Linked DNA regions of Homo sapiens: region 1 is linked to region 2. A link means that fine-mapping ties the variant in region 2 to the expression of a gene that starts in the linked region. Tissue or cell type: whole blood. Region 2 holds a variant in brackets; the other region holds the start of a gene. All regions are shown on one strand. Distances are from middle to middle.

Evidence for each region.
Region 1: FEZ1 starts here. The variant in region 2 is fine-mapped to the expression of FEZ1 in whole blood (INTERVAL, PIP above 0.99).

Annotation. Positions count from the first base shown.
Region 1 is chr11:125,492,524-125,501,579 of GRCh38, forward strand. It overlaps FEZ1 (fasciculation and elongation protein zeta 1), which reads right to left and starts at 3,742. Exons shown (of 10, transcript NM_005103.5): 1 at 3,598-3,742. It overlaps LOC403312 (putative uncharacterized protein MGC39545), which reads left to right and starts at 2,691. Exons shown (of 2, transcript NR_164146.1): 1 at 2,691-3,092; 2 at 3,985-7,003. RefSeq lists enhancers at 1,794-2,297, 2,800-3,303, 3,304-3,805 and a silencer at 3,680-3,929.
Region 2 is chr11:125,526,818-125,536,090 of GRCh38, forward strand. No RefSeq gene overlaps it. Among named protein-coding and RNA genes, the nearest start is that of FEZ1, 35 kb to the left of the region's middle. RefSeq lists a cis regulatory region at 5,854-6,327 and a silencer at 7,416-7,710. The variant C/CT (reference allele first, on the strand shown) is at 4,409.

The DNA of each region.
Region 1 (9,056 bases), 34 kb before region 2:
GAGAGTAAAACAGTTTTCACAGCCCAGGGATTTGTGTTGATTAAGGCAGTACTCTGTGATGGCTAAGAGCATAGGCTTTGGGTTCCTGTCCTGGTCCTGTCACTCCTAGTTGGGAGACTTTGGGCAAGTTATCAACCTCACTGTGCCTCAATTTCATCATCTATAAAATGGAGTTTAAAACAGTGCTTCCCTTGAAGATTACTTTTTGGACTAAATGAGATCATCTTTGAAGTGTTAAGTACAATGTGCAGAATATAGAAAGCATCCAATAAATATCAATCATTCTAGAAAAATCAAAGCTGGGCACGGTGGCTCACACCTGTAATCCCAGCAACTGGAGAGGCTGAGGCAGGAGGATTGGTTGAGCCCATGAGTTTGAGGCTATAGTGAGCTATGATCACACTACTGTATGCCAGCCTGGGTGACAAAGTGAGACCCTATCTTTAAAAAAAAAAAAAAAAAAGTTAAAAATAATTCTAGGAAAACCAGGATAGCTAACTTACATAGAAATGTGATGTGGGGGCTGGGCACAGTGGCTCATGCCTGTAATCCCAGCACTTTGGGAGGCTGAGGTGCGTGGATCACCTGAGGTCAGGAGTTCAAGACCAGCCTGGCCAACATGGCAAAACCCTGTCTCTACTAAAAATACAAAAAAAAAAAATTAGCTGAGCATGGTGGCAGGTGCCTGTAATCCCAGCTACTTGGGAGGCTGAGGCAGGAGAATCGCTTGAGCCCAAGAGGCAGAGGTTGCAGTGAGCCGAGATCATGCCATTGCACTCCAGCCTGGGCAACAAGAGCGAAACTCCATCTCAAGAAAGAAAGAAAGAAAGAAAGAGAGAAAAGAAAGAAAGAAAGAAAGAAAGAAAGAAAGAAAGAAAGAAAGAAAGAAAGAAAGAAAGAAGGAAAGAAGGAAAGAAGGAAAGAAGGAAAGAAGGAAAGAAGGAAAGAAGGAAAGAAGGAAAGAAGGAAAGAAAGAAAGAAAGAGAGAAAGAAAGAAAGAAAGAAAGAAAGAAAGAAAGAAAGAAAGAAAGGTGATGTGGGAGTGCTTCAAGTAAAAGAAAAATTATCCCTGCCATGATATTCTCTGTGCAATGCTTCAATATGCTTATCAAACAAGAGAACTATTGCTGAAAGAATTTTAGCATCTTTTTTACTAAGGCTTCTTTTTTCAATTTATTTGTTCAAAGGTTCCTGGATCGTGGGTTCCATTTTACAGAGATATGAAAGCCAATCCGATAGTGTTGCAGGTATTTACACTGCCTTTAAATTTGTACTTTTCTCTGGGAATGACAGGGGAGAAGCAGATGGTGACACCAGTGGGGTTTCTGATTTGAAATGACACAGTCTATATGATTAACCAGCAACAAGAGGCCAATCCAACCAGAATCTAGGACTAAGACTGAGTTTTGAGTGTTGGCAACAGGAAGAGTGTGCTGAAAGCACTCTGCCCAGGCAGAGTGTAGAGAAAATGGATTCATCTAGAAAATTATAAAAGACGAAATGAATATCACAGCTCTAGGGTTCAGACACATGCTCATTTGAAACAGTCCATAATATAGACTGATTGTTTTTTGTCAACTCATTATCCAAGAGCCAAGAAGTGCTGCATGAATGACCATCTGGAGATGAAGTTAAAGTGAAAGCCAGTGCTGGGAAACTAGTCACTCAACACCCAAACTGAATCCAGCATTTGTGGAAAGACCTCAGGCTGTGGCACAGATGAGAGTCAGGCGTTCTGACTGGCCCCACTATAGCCTCCAGGAGGGCTCTGTGGATTGGGGTTGGCAGCACTTCCTTAGATGGTGACCCTGCCTTCCTTCCTTTAGCCCACTTTCTTTCGCCCTCCTCTCTTCACGGAGTGCTTTCATCCTTCAACTAAAATGTCTGAAACAACCTTATTTTCCATCCTGGCAAGCTTGCACCATCCTCATTCATAGCTCATCTGGGAGCCTTCTTTTCCTTAAAGTAGGATTAATACAAGCGATAGCTTATTCCCTTTAGACTTCCAAGATCAAAAATAAATACGTACATACATGAAAATGGCAGAAAGAAGGAACCATGGGAGGGTCGCCTTTTCTTTTTCTCTTTACCACAGAACAGAGCGCAGGACTATAGTCTGATTGTCCTACAATCTATTCCATTTATTTTCACTCCCAATAGATGGTGTAATTTGGAAAAGAAAAGACACTCACGGGGCTTAACAGAGACCCAGTAGGAAACGCATAAACGTCTCCCTGCAGCACAATGATGCACTCGCTGCATCTCGGGGCTGCGGTACAAATGCTCAGTCCCTGCTTTGCTGAGCTGACCCGAGTGGAGCGGAGCGGTGGAGATTTCACCACGCTAACCCCGCTGGGCCTCGGCACCTCCACACAAGCCCCATTCCATCTCCTTCTTCCCATCACTTGGTCCATAGATCAACTGATTCCGTGCCTCGTCCCCCATATCCGTCCCTAAAACCTACCCTGCACTGATCCACCTTCAGATTTCCCACTGCTCCTCCGCAGAACCCACCCAGTGTGCATGTTTGTGCACATTTTGACAGAAAAAGTATTTCGTTGCATATGGATCAGCAACCCCTTCGCGGTTCTGCTTGCTCCCCTCCCCCTCCTCCCGCTGCTCCATTCACCTCCATCTCAGATCCCCCTCCTCCCCCCAGTCCGGTGGGGTAAAGAAAGCCTCCTCCAGGCAGCACAATGGCTGGCACTCTGAGGAAGCCGGACTCATCCCGTGCAGGCCGCATACACACTCCACTGCCCTTCCGGCCAAACAAGCCCGGACACGGGAGAGGGATGAGAGTCGGGGATGCCTAGCGGCGAGGAGAGAAGGGATAGGCAAAAGGGAAGAAGAGCGGGCTGTGATACCTCCTCGACGCCGTCAAACACTGCTCCCCGCATTCCAGAGCCCGGGGCCCACCCGACGGCAGCGCGCCCCGCCACCGCGCAGCCGCCCCGGTCCCTTCTCCCGCCCGTCTGTAGTAAAACAATCGCTCTCCCGGCGTCTGCGGCCGCTGCCAGCGGTTCTGACACTGCAGGAATGCGCGGTCTGGGGAAGGCTCCGCACTCTGGGGAGGGGCACGAGCGGGGTCGGGGGTAAGTTTTTAGGGACAAAGATGATCTTGGGGCGTTTACGGTGACTGGACCAGATAACGGTCCCGGGACGAGGTACCGACCCACTGCCCCAGCGCGATCGGGCGGCGTTCCCTTCTTCCCCCAGCCCCCATACCTCGCCGCCCTGCCTTCACACGCGCGCACACACGCGGGCACACACACGCGGACACACACACACACACACACACACACACACACACACCAGGCCTGGCTGGAGGGCCGATGCTGAGATGATACTGGAAGTGCCCATCATCCCACATCTCCAGGGCCTGGCGCGGCGTCCCAGCTGCGCTCCCTGAAGGGCTGGGCAGGAAGGCGACGGCCTCCCGTTGTTCCTTTCTAATCCCAGAATGGGACCAGGTGAGGGGAGCTGCGGCGACCCCAGACCGTCCTGTCAGAGAATCCCGGGGCCTCCTTACCACCCCCACCAGACCCCACCCCCAGCAGTGAGTCGGGTCCTAACTAAAGTCAACCCCCGCGACGGCACCTGTGCGGGTCCTGGCGGAGGGAGGCGGATCCCGGGGCTCAGCCGGACACCCCCATCCACGGGCCGCGGGAGCGGCCGGAGCGCAGCGCAGCGCAGCGGAGAGCCAGCCAGCCAGCCAGCCAGCGAGCGCTCCCCGCGCAGCTCCGGCGGCGCCCGGCTCCGCTCCCGCCTCCACCCCACCCCTTCCCCGCGCTCGTGCCCGGGCTCCGGGGGCGCGCCCGCGCTCGGGCACCCACCCAACTGGCACGCGCGGGAGCTGGACGTCATCCCCTCGTTAACATTCATAGCCTTCCTCCGAGCACGTGGGCTTGCCTTTATTAATATTTATGCATTTCTGTTTCTCTCCTCTTTAACATTGGCCTTTCTGCTTCCCTCATGAATATTCAGAAACTCCAAGATGAAAGCGTGCAATAACTACCAATATGGATACCTCGCAAAGCCTGACACTAGTTTCTGGATAAAATGCAGGCGATGGCTGCTGGCGGATGCCGGCAGACACACTCAAAGACCCTTTTGGACTTTCCGAGTTTCCCATTCTCCTCTACTGGAGGCTGAGGCGGGCAGGCCCAGCGACGTCTCCCAGCTCCAACTGGGTTCGGACCTCAAGCCAAAAATGAGGAGGCCGGCAGGAGAGCTTTTCTCGCCCAAAGATGCTGGGTGGGAGCTGGATCCAGCTGAAAAATCTGAGTGAGAAGGTTTCAGGCCCAGGAGGACTTGAGATAATACAGGAAAATTCAAGAGGCTGAAATGAGAAGGGTCCCTGGAGTCTTGTGAAAAATTATTAATTTATCTTGTCTACTGTGCATAGGCCTGTGCTTATAGAAGTTGTCAATAAAAAATCTAATAATTCACGAATACACACAACTAAGAGCACAAGAACTGTAATTATCGAAGGAAGGCACTGGAAAAAGCATGTCGGCTTGGAGAACCCCAAGTACTTTTGTCTGATGGCAAAGTACCTCTGGGCTGAACTGAGGACTTCAACTGGAAGGGGCAGGGAGCGTCTCTTTTGCTCGTTTATGCATTCATTCCACAGACATTTCAACCATGAGAAGGATGGAAACAGGAATAATGTCCCAATGAGATGAGAAGAAGCGTTGGCCTATTTGCCTTTGTGGGAGCAATAGACAGAGGATGTCTTCCTGTAAGAAATCATAAGGCCAGGCACGGTGGCTCACACCTATAATCCCAACATGTTGGAAAGCTGAGGCAGGAGGATCACTTGAGGCCAGGAGTTCAAGACCAGCCTAGGCAACATAGTGAGACCCCATCTCTATAAAAAAAAAAAAATTAGCCAGGCATGGTGGGCCCATCCTGGTAGCCCATCCTGGTAGCCCCAGCTACACTGGAGGATGAGGTGGGAGGATCGCTTGAGCCCAAGAGGTTGAAGCTGCACTCCAGCCTGGGCGACAGCAAGACCTTGTCTCAAAAGTAAATAAATAAATAAATAAATCACAAAGAGTAGCTGGTTAAAAGATCCCTAGATCTCCTTTCTTGGGATCATGCCCAGTTTTGTGACCTTGGGTTAGTTAACTTCCCTGTGGCTCATTTCCTCATCTGTAAAATGAAGAAAATAATAGTGCCCGCCGGGCGCGGTGGCTCACGCCTGTAATCCCAGCACTTTGGGAGGCCGAGGCGGGCGGATCACGAGGTCAGGAGATCGAGACCATCCTGGCTAACACGGTGAAACCCCATCTCCACCAAAAATACAAAAAATCAGCTGTGCGTGGTGGCGGGCGCCTGTAGTCCCAATTACTCGGGAGGCTGAGAATGGCGTGCACCCAGGAGGCGGAGCTTGGAGTGAGCCGAGATTGCGCCACTGCACTCCAGCCTGGGTGACAGAGCGAGACTCCGACTCAAAAAAAAAAAAAAGAAAGAAAATAATAGTGCCCCACTCTATTGTGGCCTGTTGTGGGATTAAAGGAGTGAATATGAGTAAAGTACTTCCAGGTTTATTAGAAGGCACTATATGTATGTATGTGTGTATATATATACACACACACATATATATGTCATATATATGTCTCATATAGATGTCCCATATATACGTCTCATATAGATGTCCCATATATATGTCTCATATAGATGTCCCATATATGTCTCATATAGATGTCCCACATATATGTCTCATATAGATGTCCCACATATATGTCTCATATAGATGTCCCACATGTATGTCTCATATAGATGTCCCACATGTATGTCTCATATAGATGTCCCACATGTATGTCTCATATAGATGTCCCACATGTATGTCTCATATAGATGTCCCACATGTATGTCTCATATAGATGTCCCACATGTATGTCTCATATAGATGTCCCACATGTATGTCTCATATAGATGTCCCATATATATGTCTCATATAGATGTCCTATATATGTGTGTGTGTATATATATATGTGTGTGTGTATATATATGTGTGTGTGTGTATATATATATGTGTATATATATGTATATATATATATGTCTTGGCTAATTTGAGGCCATCTTTTGTCTAGATCTTCAGAGCATGGGACAAACAGATTTGAGAGAAGCTTGTGAAGTACTGAAAGTGATAAAGAACTTGGTCTTCAGCTGGTGACCTTGTTAGTTATCCTCTCTGTACCTCAGTTTTCTCATCTGTAAAATGGAGATGCCAATATCTGCTGTTGGATGCCAATATCTACTACAAGGTTGTTGTTATGCATATTAAGTAATATAATGCATGCAAAATGCTTAGCACAGTGCCTGGCATATAATAAGAAACCAATTAGTGGATTCTGTGGTTATTTTTGTGAGGCTATGAAGAAACTGAAAGCTGAGGACAAGTAGCCTAGGCTAGGTACCTAGGATGAGAAATCCCTGAACATGAGCCCAGTTATTCTTCCAGCAAACACTTATTTTATTGTAGTAAGATATATATAACATAAAAATTACTATTTTAACCATTTTTAAGTGTACAATTCACTGGTATTAAACACATTCACATTGCTGTGTAACCACCACCACTATTCATCTACAGAAATTTTGTTATCCAAACAGAAACTCTGTATCCATTAAACACTAACTCCCCAGTACTCCCTTCCCCAGCCCCTGGTAACCACTATTCTAATTTTGTCTCTAAGAATTTGACTATTCTAAGTACCTCATGTAAGTGTAATTATACAATATTTGTTTTTTGTATCTGACTTATTTCACTTAGCACAATGTTTTCAAGGTTAATCTATGTTGCAACAATGTCAGAATTTCTTTTCTTTTTAAGGTAAATAATATTCCATGGTATGTATATACTACATTTTGTTTATCTATTCATCTGCCCATGGACATTTGGATTGTTTCCACCTTTTGGCTATTGTGAATAATGCTACTAATCTGTCATGGGATTAGAGTGAGAAAGAAAGAATAAAAAAATAATGCTGCTGTCAACATCGGTGTACAAATTCCAGCAAGCATTGGTTGCATTCCATGACCTAGGCTAGAAGCTGGGGAGCTAAAAATGAAGGCATGCTTTCAAGAGGTTCCATGTTTAGTATGTTGATTTCCAAACTCTGCTGCTTAGAACCTGCAGTGGATTGAATGGTATTTTCCTAAAATTTGTGTCTACTCAGAACCTCAGAATGTGACTTTTACAGATGTAATCAGTTATGATGAGGTCATACTAGATTCGGGTAGGCCCTAAATCCAATGACTGGTGTCCTTATAAGAAGAGGAGAGGAGGCTGGGCATGGTGGCTCACACCTGTAATCCTAGCACTTTGGGAGGTGAGTAGATCAACTGTGGTCAGGAGTTCGAGACCAGCCTGGACAACATGGCGAAACCCCATCTCTACTAAAAATTAAAAAAAAAAAAAAATTAGCAGGGTGTGGTGTCACATACCTATAATCCCAGCTACCTGGGAGGCTGAGGAAGGAGAATCGCTAGAACCGGGGAGGCGCAGGTTGCAGTGAGCTGAGATCATGCCACTGTACTCCAGCCCAGGTGACAAAGCAAGACTATGTCAAAAACAAAAACAAAAAATACAAGAGGAGAGCATGCATAGGAAAGGAGGCAGAGATTGGAGTAATTCAGGTACAAGCCAAATGACACCAAGGATTGCCAGGAACCACCCAAAGCTAGAATGAGGCAAGAAAAGATTCTTCCCCAGGACCTTCAGTAGGTAGCATGGCCCTGCTGACAGCTTGATTTTGGACTTCCAGCCTCTAGAACCATGAAACCATAAATTTCTATTTAAAGATCATTTGTCGTGGCAGGCCTAGGAAACTAGTACAAATTTTGGTAGTAGAAAGTGGGATGCTGCTGTAACAAATATTTAAAAATGTGGAAGTGCCTTTGGAACATCGTAATGCAAAGAGGCTGGAAGAAGTTTGAGACACATGACAGAAAAAGCCTATATTGCCCCAAAGAGACTGTTGGTATAATTATGAATATTAAGGGCAATTCTAGTGAGGCTTCAGAAATGAGGAGACTGTAGAGAAAGTTTCTACGGTCATAGAGAATACATATATTATTATAACAAATAGGAATATGAATGTTAAAGGTGATTCTGGTAAGGTCTAAGATGGAAATGAGGAACTGTTGTTAGAAACTGAACAAAAGACAAACTGTGTTATAGAGTGGCAGAGAACTTGGCTGAATTTTGTCCTGCTCTTGGAAGGCAAGTAGAACTTGTAAGCGATGAACTTGTATATTTAGCTGAGATTTCCAGGCAAAGTGTAGGAGATTTGGCCAGGTTTCTCCTTGCTGCTTATAGTAAAATGCAAGAAGGAATGATGGTGTGGATCCCTTTCACTCCTAAGTAGCAAGTTACACAGGAGACCAACATGGTTTCTGAGAATTTTATACCAACAGAAACACTGTCAGCCTGGAATGAAAAGGACGGAGATGAAATGAAGGACAAGTCTTAGACCTCTGAAATTCCACAGGCAGAAAATAGGCTGATGTACGTTCTTGGCAGCAAACATGGGTTATCCTTCAAGAAAAAGAAAGAATGACTCTTAGGATGGGGCCCACTGCCCTGGATCCAGAGGATGGAGCATCGAACCATAAGGGATTTTTCTCAGGCCTCGAAACCTAATGGAACTTCCCCTGCTGTTCTACAAGCTTGCTTTGGACTAATGACCCCCTGTTTTCCTTCCATTTTCTCTCTTTCAAAAATGTTTTTTTAATTTTTTTTGTAGAAATGGGGTCTCACTATGTTGCCCAGGCTGGTCTCAAACTCTTGGCCTCAAGGGATCCTCCCACCTCAGCCTCCCAAAGGACTAAGATTATAGGCAAGAGCCACTGTGCCCAGCCCTCATTTTCTCCCTTCTGCAAGGGGAATGTCCATCCAATGTCTGCTCTACCACTCTATTTTGGAAACAAATCATTTGATTTCTAATTTCATAGGTCCACAATGGGAGAGGAATTTTGCCCCAGAATGTATCACACCTAGAGTTTCACCCATACCTGATTTAAATGATGAGATTTGGAACTTTTAG
Region 2 (9,273 bases):
AGGATCTTGCTGTGTAGGCTGGTCTCCATTTCCTGGGCTCAAGGGATCCTCCTGCCTCAGCCTCTCAATTAGCTGAAACTACAGGTGTATACCACTGCACACCCCTGAAGAGGTTATTTAAGCCTCAACAATCTTGTCCTTGTTTGAGTCTCATATTTTGTATGACTCCCATTCTTATGCACATTAATAAATTTGTATGCCTTTTCTCATGTTAATCTATTGTCATTTAATTTCAGCAGAGTCAAACCTTTGTAGGGAGAGGGAAACATTCCCTCCACTCCTACAGTTGTGTTATGATTCCTACTCAACCCTTATCTAGTACCCTGTATTGAAAGAAATGCCTTAAACCAAACTTCTAATTCTCAATAAAAAAATTTTTAATATTCAGTGGCCAGTTACTGGATCAATAAATTTTGGTCTTACCTTCCCCTTCTGAGAATTCCCAAAGCTCTGTTCAGGTGGTGTTCTTCCTTACTATGGTAAACAGTAAACTCAGCATCATGCTATCAACAAATTGGGCTGGTAATGTTTGGGAAATGGCTATTAGTTTTGTTTTTTTTTTTTTTTTTTTTTTTGTTTTTTTTTGAGATGGAGTCTCCGTTTGTCACCCAGGCTGGAGTGCAGTGGTGTGATCTCGGCTCACTGCAACCTCTGCCTCCCAGGTTCAAGCAATTCTCCTGCCTCAGCCTCCCGAGTAGCTGGGATTACAGGCATGCCCCACCATGCCTGGCTCATTTTTGTATTTTTAGTAGAGACAGGGTTTCACCATGTTGGCCAGGCTGGTCTCGAACTGCTAACCTCGAGGGATCTCTCCACCTCGGCCTCCCAAAGTGCTGGGATTACAGGCTTGAGCCACTATCCCTGTCTTTGTTTTTTTGTTGTTGTTGTTCTTTTTTTTAAAACTATGTTAAAATATATATAACATAAAATTTTACCATTTTAACCAGTTTAAAATGTATATAGTTCAGTGGCATTAAGTACATCACATTGTTGTACAACCAGTGCTACTATCCATCTGCAGAACTTTTCATCATCCCCAACTGAAAATCTGTAGCTATTAAACAATAACATCCCATTACCCCCTTGCCCCAGCCCTGGGGACACCACCATTGTTCTTGCTGTCTCCATGAATTTGACTATTCTAGCTACCCTATATAAAAGGAGTCATACAGGGCTGGGCGCTGTGGCTCACACCTGTAATCCCAGCACTTTGGGAGGCCGAGGCGGGCAGATCACGAGGTCAGGAGATCGAGACCATCCTGACTAACATGGTGAAACCCCGTCTCTACTAAAAATACAAAAAATTAGCCAGGCATGGTGGCAGGTGCCTGTAGTTCCAGCTACTTGGGAGGCTGAGGCAGGAGAATGGTGGGAACCCAGGAGGCGGAGCTTGCAGTGAACCGAGATCGCGCCACTGCACTCCAGTTTGGGTGACAGAGCGAGACTCCATCTCAAAAAAATAAAGGAGTCATACAATATTTGTCCTTTTGTGTCTGGCTTCTTTCATTTAGCAAAATATTTTCAAGGCTTATTCATATTGTAGCATGGATCAGAATTTCTTTTCCAATTCCTTTGAGGCTTTATGGGATACTGTGAAATATATATTTGGTTTTTGTCCCTGTCTCCTGTCATACAACTCCTAATATCCTTGGAACCTCCAAAGACATCAGTGTCTTTATGTATACTAATGAGTTGACTGGTGACTGGCAGGCCCTGGGTAACTTCGGGATGGGGGCTGGTCACTGCAAAGACCAAAGCATCATTAGAGGGTTGGGACTTTCAACCTCACCCCCAAACCTCTGGGAAGGGGTGGGGGTTGAAGGTCAAGTTGATCACTCACGGCCAATGATTTAATCAATCATGCCTACACAATGAAGCTTCGATAAAAACCCAGAACAGGTGGCTTCGGGGATGTTCTGGATAGCTAAATGCATGAAGGTTCCTGGAGGGTGCCATACCCAGAGAGGGCATGGAAGCACCATGTGCCTTCCCTCATAACTCACCGTATGTATCCCTTTATCTGTAACCTTTGTAATGTCTTTTACAATAAACTAGTAAATGTGTTTCCCTGAGTTCTGTGAGCTGCTTTAGCAAATAAATCAAACCCATTGAGAGTGTTTTAGGAAGCCCAATGTATTGTTGACTGGTCAGAAGCACGAGTAAAACAATATGGAGCTTACAATTGGCATCAGAAGTAGTGGGCAGTCTTGCGGGACTGAGCCCTCAACCGGTGGGATCTAATGCCATCTCCAGGTAAACAGCGTCAGAATTGAATTGAATTAGAGGATACTCAGCTGGTGTCAGCTGAAGACCCTGCTGCAGAACTAATTGATTGGTTGTTGGTGGGGAGAAATCTCCATTCATTTCTTGGTGATGAGAGATCACAGAAGTCTTTTATGGTATGATGTGAGAGCAGATGTGAAAACAGCAGATGAGAAAACAGTTTGCTTTTTCTACAGGCTGTAATTTCTTTAATAATATTAAAGGCTTTGGGCAGGCACGGTGGCTCACATCTATAACCTCAGCACTTTGGGAGGCTGAGGCAGGAAAAATGCTTGAGGCCAGAAGTTCAAAACCAGCCTGGTCAACATAGAAAAACCCCGTCTCTACAAAAGAAAAATTTAAAAATTAGCTGGAGGTGGTGGTGCACACCTCTAGTCCCAGCTACTCAGGAGGCTGAGGTGGTGGATTGCCTAAGCCGAGGAGGTCAACGCTCCAGTGAGCCATGATTCTTCCACTACACTCCAGTCTGTTTGACAGAGCAAGACTCTGTCTCTAAAAAAAAAAATAATAAAAAATAAAAATAAATTAAAGGCTTTAATTCCTTGAATAATATCCTATTGCTTGTATGTGCCACATTTCATCTCTCTATTCATCGTTAGTGGACACTTGGGTTGTTTCCACATTTTGGCTGTTGTGAATAATGCTGCTACTATGAACAGACACAAATATCTGTTTGAATTCTTACCTTCACTTTTTTTGGGTATACACCTAAAAGTAGAATTGCTGGATCATAGGGTAATTCTATGTTTAATTTTTTGAGGAGGCACCATAGTGTTTTCTACAATAGCTTCTCCATTTTACCTTCCCACCAGCAATGTACATGGGTTCCAATTTCTCCACATCCATGTCAATGCTTGTCATTTTCTGTTTTGTTTTTGTTGTTGTCATTGTTGTTTATCTATATAGTAGCCATCCTAATGGGAGTGAAGTGGTAACTCATTGTGGTTTCAATTTGCATTTCTCTAATAATTAGTAGTGTTGAGCATCTTTTCATGTGTTTATTGGTCATTACTGAAGAAATGTCTATTCAAGTCATTTGACCGTTTTTTACTCTGGTTGTTTGTTTTTTGTTGTTACGTTGGGAGAGTTCTTTATGTATTCTGGATAGTAACCCCTTACCAGACACATGATTTGCAAATATTTTCTCTCATTCCATAGGTTGTCTTTTCTGTTGATAGTGTCCTTTGATGCACAAGTCTTAAATTATCATGTAGTTCAATGTATCTATTTTTTTTTTTTTGAGACAGTCTTGCTCTGTTGCCCAGGCTGGAGTGCAGTGGTGTGATCTCGGCTCACTGCAAGCTCCACCTTCCGGGTTCATGCCATTCTCCTGCCTCAGCCTCCCGCGTAGCTGGGACTGCAGGTGCCCGCCACTATGCCTGGCTAATTTTTTTGTATTTTTTTTAATAGAGATTGGGTAATTTATCTATTTTTGTTGTTGCTGCCTGTGCTTTTCATGTCTTATCTAAAAAATTATTGTAGAATCCTATGTCATGAAGTTTTTAGTTTATGTTTTCTTCTTAGGGTTTTATAGTTTGAACTCTTAAATTTAGGTATTTGTTTCACTTTGACTTTTTTTTTTTTCTTTTTGAGACAGGGTCTCATTCTGTCAACCAGGCTGGAGAGCAGTGGCACAAACTCAGCTCACTGCAACCTCCGCCTCCCTGGCTCAAGTGATCTTCCCACCTCAGCCGCAAGAGTTGCTGGGACTACAGGTGAACACCACCATGCCTGGCTAATTTGTGTGTGTGTGTGTGTGTGTGTGTGTGTGTGTGTGTGTGGAGATGGAGTTTCGCCATGTTTCCCAGGATGGTCTCGAGTTCCTGAGCTCAAGCCATCCACCCGCCTCAGCCTACCAAATTTCTGGGATTACAGGTGTGAGCCACTCCACCTGGCCTGACTTAATTTCTGTATATGGTGTAAAGTAGAGGTCCAGCTTCATTCTTTTGCATGTGGATATTCAGTTTTCCCAGCCTCATGTGTTGAAAAGACTGTTCTTACCCCATTGAATGGTCTTGGTACCTTGTTGAAAATCATCTGACTTTACATGCAAGGTTTATTTTCAGACTCTATTTTATTCCATTGGTCTATATATCTGTCTTTATGCTAGTACCATGAGAAGTCA[C/CT]TTTTTTTTTTTTTTTTTTTGAGATGATGTCTCGCTCTGTTGCCCAGGCTGGAGTACAGTGGCGCGATCTCAGCTAATTTTTGTAGTTTTAGTAGAGACGGGGTTTCACCATGTTGGCCAGGCTGGTCTCAAACTCCTGACCTCAGGTGATCCGCACACCTTGGCCTCCCAAAGTGCTGGGATTACAGGCATGAGCCACTGCGCCCGGCCTAATTTTTTTTTCTTAAGACAGGATCTCGCTCTGTCACCCAGGTTGGAGTGCAATGGAGTGATCTCGGCTCACTGCAACCTCTGCTTCCTGGGTTCAAGCAATTCTCCTGCCTCAGCCTCCCGGGTAGCTGGGACCACAGGCATGCGCCACCACGTCTGGATAATTTGTGTGTGTGTGTGTGTGTGTGTGTGTGTGTGTGTGTGTATTTTTAGTACAGACGGTGTTTCACCATGTTGACCAGGCTGGTCTCGAACTCCTGACCTCAAATGATCTGCCTACATCCACCCGCCTTAGCCTCCCAAAGTGCTGGGATTACAGGCGTGAGACCGTGCCTGGCCTGAGAAGTCAGCTTTTAAAAGAGCCTTTTTTTTACAGATGATAAAACCAAAACAAAGACAGGTTAACTAACTTATCCAAAGATATACATATAGTCAATAATTCAGAGATTTTAACTTAGTAGTCTGACACCAAACCACAGTTTTAACTACTACAAAAGAAAATGTGCCAAGTGTTTAAGCATAGAACTTCACTTGTGCAAAGTTATGAGTATGAATTTTACTGATATGTTTTGTTAAATGAAAGAACAAATATATAAAATAATATTTTAAATATATTTAAAATGTCAACATTATGACTTATACATTATATTATTATTATTTTTGAGACGGAGTCTCACTCTGTCACCCAGACTGGAGTGCAGTGGCGCAATCTCAGCTTACTGCAACCTTTGCCTCCTGGGTTCAAGCAATTCTCCTGTCTCAGTCTCCCGAGTAGCTGGGACTACAGGCGCCCGCCACCACGCCCAGCTAATTTTTTTTTTTTTTTTTGTAGTAGAGATGGGGTTTCACCATATTGGTCTGGCTGGTCTCAAACTCCTGACCTCAGGTGATCCACCCACGTCAGCCTCCCAAAGTGTTGGGATTACAAGCGTGAGCCACTGTGCCCAGCCGACTTATACATTTTAACTTGAATCACAGTATGCCCAAATCTATGTAATAATGATTTATATCGTAAAAAATCCCCACTCCTCACAACATTTTCAGGAAGATAGGTCTGTGTTTCCAATAATCTTCACCTTAACGGCCCATAGGCCCTTCAATTCAATCATATTTATACCTCAACTCATGATCTTTGGACTCCTCTGTTCTATTCTAGTCCATCTTTTCTTTAATTTTTGAAACACAAATCTGATCTCATTCTCTGATTCAAATGTTTTAATGTGAAGGTTAGAAAATGGCTAAATTGAGCTTGCAGAAATATTTTGTTTGACCTTCAGTTTTTCCAACATTGAAAAAATCAGGAGATTTCTTGCAAAAATCCTGATTCCTGGCCTCTCTTGAAGAATTTGGTTGTCTTGCAACATGTCCTGCGTTGCCATATGGCCGCAACTACTTGCATCTCCACCCAGTTAATCTGCTCTGGGGCCTACAAACATCTGACTTTACAGATAATGCTCTAAGGGTTCCTTGGGGCCTGCAGTACTGTCAGGACAAACTGGTTCCTTAGGCAGCAATGAGATTAGTGAACTAAACGTCCACATATCAACCTGAATGATCTTCAAAACACTGCTGAGTGAAAAAAAGTAAGAAACAAGCTGAGACCTATAGCATAATTTATATAAATTAAAAATATATACATATCATAAAAGAGTTCACATTTCACGAGAAGATACTCCAATAAAATGGACATATATCACACACTTGGAACATTTTATAGTTAAGGACACAGAAAGGGAGGGGAGTATACTAGGAACTGAGAAGTGCCATTAACTCAATAAGCTGGAGCTGATATCCCCCAAAAAAGTGGGAAAAAAAGAAGTTAAAAACTTTTTTTTTGAGACAGAATCTTGCTCTGAATGAATAACATATTTTTCATTTTAGACATTGTAGTTTAAGTCTCTAATTCAATTTGGACCTTTAAAAACCTTCCAGTCTATTTAACTTGCTCATTTTTTCTCTACCTTATTAAACATATGAAATACAGTTAAAGTAACTCTTTTATGCCTTTAGTTATTATATCATTTGTGTCATTTACAGATCTGTTTCCATTGATTGATTATTCTCATTATATGTCATATTTTCCTGATTTTTCCATGTCTGGGCATTTTTGGTTGAATGTAAGATGCTCTGAATGTTTTCTTGTTGGGAGGTGGATATTTTTATATTTATATACATATTCTTGAGCTTTTTTTCAGGGATACAGTTAACTTGCTTGGAACACTTACTTTCAAGGATGGGGATGATGTTTAAACTTTGTTAGGGAGGACCAGAGCAGCCTTTATTACAAGACTAATTTTTCCCAGTCCTGAGGAAATACTCTTTTAGGAATTATTTTAAACAATATCATTTACTAATTATATATATATATGTATATGTGTGTGTATATCTATGTATATATATGCCAAGTGCAGTGGCTCATCCCTGTAATCCCAGAACTTTGGGAGGCTGAGGCAGGCAGATTGCTTGAGCCCGGGAGTACAAGACCAGCCTGGGCAACATAGTGAAGCTCTGTCTCCACAAAAAATACAAGAATTAGCTGAATATGGTGGCCCATGCCCACAGTCTCAGCAACTCGGGCTGCCAAGGTGGGAGGACTGCTTGAGTCTGGGAGGTAAAGGCTGCAGTCAGCCATTTCATGCCACTGCACTCCAGCCTGGGTGACAGAGTAAGACCCTGTTTAAATAATTATAATTGATGTATAAAATTATTATACATAATTATGATATATATATTTCCTTTCTGGCTTATGGAAATGCAAAATATTCCTAGCTCTTTGAGAAGTTTAGGAATTATTTCCTTGAATCATTTTAGTGTCTCTTCCTCAAACTAAGGTAGTTTCCTCATATGCTTACACTGATGTATACTCAGCTGAAGACATGATCTTGGAGCTTCCACCCCTATCTCTGCACTCTTTCCTCTTCAGCATTCTGCCCTGCAAACTTAAGCCACCTTGCCTCCCAAGACTCCCAATTCCATCTTGTAAATTCAGGGAGACTGCTAGGTTCCACCTGGGTTTCCACTCTCTGTGCTGTATCTTCCATACAGTAAGATGGGGCAGAAGTAGGGATCATCTCATTTGTTTCTCCCATCTCAGGGATCGCTGTCCTCTATCACCTGATGTCCAATATCTGAAAACTATTATTTCATGTATGTTGTCAGGTTTTTGTAGTTGTTTCCTGTAGGAGGGTAAATCTAGTCTCTGTTACTACATCTTGGCCAGAAGAAGAAGATAGCCTCATATATAATTTAATTTGATTCTCAGCATTACTCTGGGGCAGATAATATTATTACAGATGAAGATCTGAAGCTTGGAGAAATTAAATAACCTTTTCTAGAGGCTTGCACAGTATATGATGCATGGGCACTAAAACAACATAAACCAAACCAAACCAAAACGAGAAACACAAAGCCTTCCTGATGGTAAGTAAAAGGGCAAATCAAGGATGATAACAAAAATCCTTTTACTCCAAGCACTTTACCCTTTCTGCATTTATCACTGCCTCAGAGCACTGTTGGACTACCTATGTAGCAAAGACATGGAGGGCTGGTTTAAAGTGTTAATGTCTGTGTTCCATCCCTGATATACTAAATCAAAATCTCTGCTGTCAATCCTTAGAATCTCCATTTCTGATAAATTCCCCACCCCTTGCCTTAAGAAATAGAAAAGACTCCACAGAACTTTTAATTTTATCCTCTCTCAAACCTCTTCAAGAATCTTCCTCTAGGTTATCATCCTGATTTCTTCAACTTTCCTTTGTTTCTGGATCTTTCCTTTTATAAAAATATTCTATTTTCTCCCAGCTTAAAAACAGACTCTTGCAAAACCAAATGTAAAATTCTAAGCCCCCCAACCAGTGGAATGGACCCCTCCTCTTGCTCAAGGGCATTCCAAAGTTAACCTGAAAAACTAGTCCAGGCCATGATGGGAAGGGGGGTTAAATATGCCTCATTGTACCCTCCTCCCTTTGAAATTCAGGGACAACTGACCAACATTAACATTAAGACACAGATCTTAAGACTGTCATCCTAAGACTGACATCAAACAGATTCTTTGTAACGATAAGACACTAAATGCCAAACTGACTCTATTATAGCATCACATAACAGATAGCAGGCCCTGAAAGAAATTGAAGTATTTTACCCTAAAATACATTTCTTTGACACATTTTGAAATGGCCCTGTAAAGCTGTCTCTCACGGGGATATCTGCATTCTGTACAGAATCCTCTTCCCTTTCCAGGTCTTTTTCCTGATCCAGGAGAGAATTAACCAAAAGTCTGGCACCTTTTTAAGTCTGATAAGAAACATTTACAATCTATTATCTCTGAAGCCTGTTGCCTGGGAGCTTCATCTGCATAAAAGGAATATTGATCTCCATGACCTTTTATCCTAACCCAGACACTTCATTCTATTGATTCCAGGTCTATAGATAAACTCTTTCAACCAATTGCCAAACAGAAAATCTTTGAATCCATCTATGACATGGAGGCTTCTTCCAACCCTGTCCCCCACCCCACCACTGCTTCTGCTTCCAGTAATCCTTCTGCTCTGGACCAAACCAACATACATCTTACATATACTGATCGATGCTGTATATGTATATGCAAGACTCCGTCTCAAAAAAAAAAAAGGTTAACAGGGAAATAACTTTAAATA